2 separate regions of the Homo sapiens genome follow, and region 2 is linked to region 1. Evidence: fine-mapped expression QTL. A gene starts in region 1. The other region holds a variant in brackets. All regions are shown on one strand. Distances are between the middles of the regions.

Region 1 (2,916 bases):
GGTCTCGAACTCCTGACCTCAGGTAATCCACCCACCTCGGCCTCCTAAAGTGCTGGGACTTGACTAGCTTCATAGATCACCTTGGGGAGTGTTGAGGAGACAACATAACTTTCTAGCTGGGGTAGTGTAGGAGGAAAATTCTTGGTGACGATAGTGGAAACCACTCTCCCACATCAAAACCATTTGATCTAGCTAAGCTGGAGAGGCCTGAGAAGTGTTGTTTTGTTTTTGCTCATTTCTCACTTGGCAATAAAGACGCCTGTTCTGGGGCCAGCCACCTCCTCCACAAGGGACCCTAGAGCTGTCCAGAGCTATGGAGGTGCATTCCAGCAGCAATTTCTGCTGAGACTCCACTTGACGTCTGCGTTGCTAATTCCAATTTGTTGTCAAATTATTCAATCTAGGCTGGGCGTGGTGGTTCACACCTGTAATCCCAGCACTTTGGGAGGCTGAGATGGGAGCATCATTTGAGCCCTGGAGTCGGAGACCAGCCTGGGCAACATGGTGAGACCCTGTCTCTACAAAAAATGCAAAAATAGCCGGGCGTGGTGGCTTGCGTCTGTAGTCTCAGCTACTCACTCAGGAGGCTGAGGTGGGAGTATCGTTGAGCCCAGGAGGTGGAGACTGCAGTGAGCCGTGATTGCACCACTGCACTACAGTCTGGGCGACAAAGCGAGACTCTGTTGGGGAAAAAAAAAAAAAAAAGAAGAAAGAGATGTAACCTTGGAAAATCAAAAGCAAAAAATAAAACATAAGGCTGGGCCAAAGGCAGAGGGGTGGGGGAAGGAGGCATGCAGAAATGCGTTCTCATTTCTTCTGGAGAATGTGCATTGGTTTCTCCTCGTAAGTTTGCACTTGACACATATTGCCACGATCTCCGAAATCCTGTGCCCTCTGCACTTGACACATATGCCACGATCTCCGAAATCCTGTGCCCTCTGTTGTTGCATCTGTTAAGTTCTCATGGAGACCAGATGGCACCCAAAGGGACATGGAAGGGGAATAAACTGAGAGATAGGGAGATTCAGAGAGTTTCTTAGGGGAGTTTTCTCGGAGAAGAGGCTTTCAGCATCTTAAAACTCCACGCTACTCCAGTCCCAGTCATGCGTAAAGGCTGCTTCCCCACAGGCGCGAGGCTTCTTTTCGCAAACGTCCTGAACACTCAGCCAGACTCCCACCGACATTTGTTTGACAGGAACGCAGGGCTCGTCCCAGTCGCCGAGATTTGCGAGGTCTGGGCCTTGCACATGCGCATGGAGCACACTTGACCACTGGGCCTTCGTGCGCACGCGCGTGGACCTTGCCATCTGAGGTGCGCATGCGCACTTGTGTCTAGCGGGATCGCTTGCTTGGTAACCCGGAGGGAGAGATTGGAAACCGCGGAGTTTCCTTTGGGAGGCTGCGGCCAGCCGGGGCTGACTTGTTATGTTGGGCTCCGGAGGCCGTTAAGAGCCGAGAGAGACATGAGGTGTCTCTGAAGCCCGGTCGCCTGGGCCATGAAGAAGATTTTTAGTAAGAAGGGCGAGTCGCCCTTGGGCTCCTTCGCGCGGCGGCAGAGGAGCAGCGCGGGAGGCGGGGGCGAGCCGGGGGAGGGCGCCTACTCGCAGCCCGGCTACCACGTCCGAGACCGAGATCTCGGCAAGATCCACAAAGCTGCCAGCGCGGGTAATGTGGCGAAAGTGCAGCAGATCCTTTTGCTCAGGAAGAATGGCTTGAACGATAGAGACAAGATGAACAGGTAATAGGCGTCGCAAGCCCGGACTGAGTGCCACTGGAGTAGGCGGGCAGGAAGAGGGGCCCCTTTTGTGGGAGCCACCCAGGGCCTGGATCAGCCTCCCGCGGGCTCCGTAGCCCCTGGGACGGTGACACCTTGCAGGGCTCCAGCGCCCAGGCCGCCTTTCTGAGCAGAAAAACAAAAACAGAACTCTAGCTGGTTTCCGATCCCCCCGAAATCCCTTAGAGAGCACTTAAGTGACAATTTTAAAGTGAATTAACGAACAAAAGCACGTACAGCGTTTTATTTTTAATGTACACATTTAAGATACAATGTCATACACTTATGGAAAGGTGCATAATGAGATAAGCAGTTTCCATAATATAGCAACTTCTGGGTTAAAAATTATTTCTATAAAATCTGTTATTCGTCAGGCGCGGTGGCTCGCGCCTGTAATCACAGCACTTCGGGAGGCTGAGGCGGGAGGATTGCTTGAGGCCAGGAGTTCAAGGCCAGCCTGGGCATTATAGCGAGACCCCCCCCCCCAACTCTAATAGTCTCAGCTACTTGGAAGGCTGAGGCAGGAGCATCACTTGAGCCCAGGAGTTCTAGGCTGCAGTGAGGTATGTCAGTGACAACAGAGCAAGACCCTATCTTTCAAAAAGAAAAAGAAATAAAATGCCTTTAGGAAATAGATATACAAGTAATTTGTTTTTCTCAGCATTGCTTAAGCAGTGTATTAAGGAGAACCCATAGAATGGATTTTGTGAATAAATGTCAGTGCATGATAATATGTGACCATTGAAAGTGGCAGTAGAGGCCAGGCGTGGTGGCTCGCGCCTGTAAACCCAGCATTTTAGGAGACCAAGGCAAGCGGATATCCTGAGGTCAGAAGTTCGAGACCAGCTTGGCCAACATGGTGAAACCCCGTCTCTACTAAAAATACAAAAATTAGCTAGGCATGGTGGTGGGAGCCTGTAATCTCAGCTACTCCGAAGACTGAGGCAGGAGAATCGCTTGAACCTGGGAGGCAGAGGTTGCAGTGAGCCAAGATCGTGCCATTGCACTCCAGCCTGGGCAACAAGAGCAAAACTCTGTCTCAAAAAAAAGAAAGAAAGAAAAGAAAGTGGCAATAGATACAGAAGTGTATTGGCATGTGAGGATATACTTTGGTATCTCAAGTGAGAAAAAAAGTTTGATTA
Region 2 (2,916 bases), 49 kb before region 1:
GAGCCGAGATTGCATCACTGCACTCCAGTCTGGGCGACAAAGCGAGATTCCATCTCAAAAAAAAAAAAAAAAAAAAAAAGGCGAGAGAGTCTATAAAGTGAAAGCAAGTTTATTAAGAAGGTAAAGGAGTAAAGAATGGGGTACTCCATAGGCAGAGGAGCTGCTTGGGCTTGTCCACGAAGGATACCTACAGTTAGTTATTTCTTGATTTTATGCTAAACAATGTGTGATTATTCATAAGTTTTCAGGGAAAGGGGGACCCCTAAGGTTCCTCCCCTTTTTAGACCACATAGGGTAACTTCTTGATGTTGCCATGGCATTTTTAAACTGTCATGGTCTGGTGGGAGTGTCTTTTAGCATGCTAATGCATTATAATTAGCACATAATGAGCAGTGAGGACTAGCAGAAGTCACTCTCCTCTCCATCTTAGTTTTGGTGGGATTTGGCTGGCTTCCTTACTACAACCTGTTTTATCATCACGGTCTTTATGACCTGTATCTTGTGCCCACACCCTATCTCATCCTGTAACTTAGAATGCCTAACCTCCTGGGAATGCAACCCAGTAGGTCTCAGCCTCATTTACCCTCATTTTGCCCCTACTCCAGATGGAGTCACTCTGGTTCAAAAGTCTCTGACAGAACTGTAACAAGAAGTATAATTGTTACTCATTATTATAGCTGTTTGAGGATTAAATGGGATGATAGAAGTAAAGCCTGTAGTACTAAACCTGGTATATAATAAGAACCCATTTAATGTATTCATTTACTCAACAAATATTTATTAAGTAAATTTTTTTTTTTCTTGAGACAGGGTCTTGCCATGTCATTCAGGCTGGAGTGTGGTGGCATGATAGCTCACTGCAGCTTCAACTTCCTGGGCTCAAGTGTTTTTTTTGTTTTCATTTTTATTTATTTATTTATTTTGAGATGGAGTTTTGCTCTTGTCACCCAGGCTGGAATGCAATGGCATGATCTTGGCTCACTGCAACCTCCGCCTCCCAGGTTCGAGTGATTCTCCTGCCTCTGCCTCCCAAGTATCTGGGATTACAGGCGCCCAACACCATTCCTGGCCAATTTTTTTGTATTTTTAGTGGCGATGGGATTTCACCACGTTGGCCAGGCTGGTCTCGAACTCCTGACCTCAGGTATCTACCTGCCTTGGCCTCCCAAAGTGCTGGGATTACAGGCATGAGCCACCATTCCCGGCCTACTTACTATTTTTTTTTTTTTAAATGTTGGATGTATTTCATTCTGTGGTAGTTTCTTTTTTTTTTTTTTTTTTT[TTTTTTG/G]AGAGACAGGTCTCACCCTGTTGCCCTGGCTAGAGTGCAGTGGCATGATCACAGCTCACTGCAACTTCCGCCTCCTGAGATCAAGCAATTCTTCTACCACAGCCTCCCAAGTAGCTGAGACTACAGGCGCACACCATCACACCCATCTAATTGTTGTATTTTTTGGTAGAGATGGGGTTTCACTGTGTTGGTCAGGCTGGTCTTGAACTCCTGACCTCAAGTGATCCACCCACCTCGGTCTCCCAAAGTGCTGGGGTTACAGGCGTGAGCCACTGCACTCGACCAGTGGTATCATTTGTTTTGCCGCTCCCCTAATGCTGGATGTTTCCAGCTTTCTACTATTTTTTAAATGTTTCGATGAGAGTTGTTCTCTATGCATGTGCAAGTACTTGTCAGATTATTTCCTTATAATAAATTCCTAGAAGGTGGATTGCTACAAACAAGAAATGTATGTATTTTTGATACTTTTGATTTACATATTCAGAATAATATCCTGAAAGAACATACCAGTTTTCGTCTCACCAGCAGTAAATCTGAGTACTTACAGTTTTTAGTATACAGAGTTGATATATAATGTACCTTTAACTCTTAACAAATCCTGACAAAAAAAGGAGATTGTTCTGTTTATTTAAAAAAAAACTACTTAGTTTTTAACTTTTATCTTTTTCTAGGTTACAGTTCCTCTGAGTCATCTCATCAATGCCTTCCATACACCAAAAAACACTTCTGTTTCTCTCAGTGGAGTGTCAGTTTCTCAAAACCAGCATCGAGATGTAGTTCCTGAGCATGAGGCTCCCAGCAGTGAGGTAAGTCTTTATCCTGGTTGTGTGAGAAAGCCTTTTTGATATACAGTTGACCCTTAAACAAATGAAGGATTAAGGATATTGTCCCTCCCCCGTAGTCAAAAATTTGAGTATAATTTTTGACTCCTGAGAAACTTAACTACTAATACCCTACTATTGACCAGGAAGCCTTACCGATAAAATAAAGGGTCCATTAACATATATTTTGTATATTTTATGTATTGTGTACTGTATTCTTACAATAAAGTAAGATGGAGAAAATGTTATTAAGAAAATCATAAGGAAGAGAAAACATATTTACCATTCATTAAGTAGAAGTGGACCATCATAAAGATCTTCATTATCTTCAAGTTGAGTGGGCTGAGGAGGAAGAGGAGGGGTTGGTTTTTCTGTCTCTGGTGGCAGAGACCGGAGAAAGTCCACGTATCTGTGGATCTGTGCAGCTTTAATCTGTGTTGTTCAAGGATCACCTGAGGTCAGGAGTTCAAGACTAGCCTGACCAATATGGTGAAATCCCATCTCTACTAGAAATACAAAAATTAGCCGGGTGTGGTGGCGTGCGCCTGTAGTCCCAGCTACTCAGGAGGCTGAGACAAGAGAATAGCTTGAGCCTAGGAGGCAGAGGTCGCTGTGAGCCAAGATCGCACCACTGCACTCCAGCCTGGGTGACAACAAGACTCTGTCTCAAAAATAAATAAATAAATAAATATAAAAATGTAATCTCATTTTTTGGTTTAATCTAAAAAAAAACACCTGTTTTTACAGGGAAGTGGAATAGGTAGGGATTTAAGAAGTAAATAAAACTCTTAAAAAAATAAAGGACCA

Which allele goes with the higher level. Positions count from the first base shown, and alleles are read on the strand shown. Sizes are in standard deviations (SD) of each study's normalised expression.
With allele TTTTTTG in place of G in region 2, the expression in lymphoblastoid cells of the gene that starts at base 1,329 in region 1 is lower (moderate effect, 0.60 SD a copy in GEUVADIS).

Evidence for each region. PIP is the estimated chance that this variant, and not a neighbour inherited with it, causes the effect.
Region 2: its variant is the best candidate, but not a certain one, in a credible set for the expression of ANKRD26 in lymphoblastoid cells (GEUVADIS, PIP 0.51).

The regions. Positions count from the first base shown.
Region 1 is chr10:27,098,907-27,101,822 of GRCh38, reverse strand. ANKRD26 (ankyrin repeat domain containing 26) reads left to right here and starts at 1,329. Exons shown (of 34, transcript NM_014915.3): 1 at 1,329-1,738. The coding sequence starts at 1,497. RefSeq lists a silencer at 1,483-1,662 and an enhancer at 1,833-1,892.
Region 2 is chr10:27,148,084-27,150,999 of GRCh38, reverse strand. It overlaps YME1L1 (YME1 like 1 ATPase), which reads left to right. Exons shown (of 19, transcript NM_014263.4): 2 at 1,960-2,094. Among named protein-coding and RNA genes, the nearest start is that of YME1L1, 4.8 kb to the left of the region's middle. The variant TTTTTTG/G (reference allele first, on the strand shown) is at 1,283.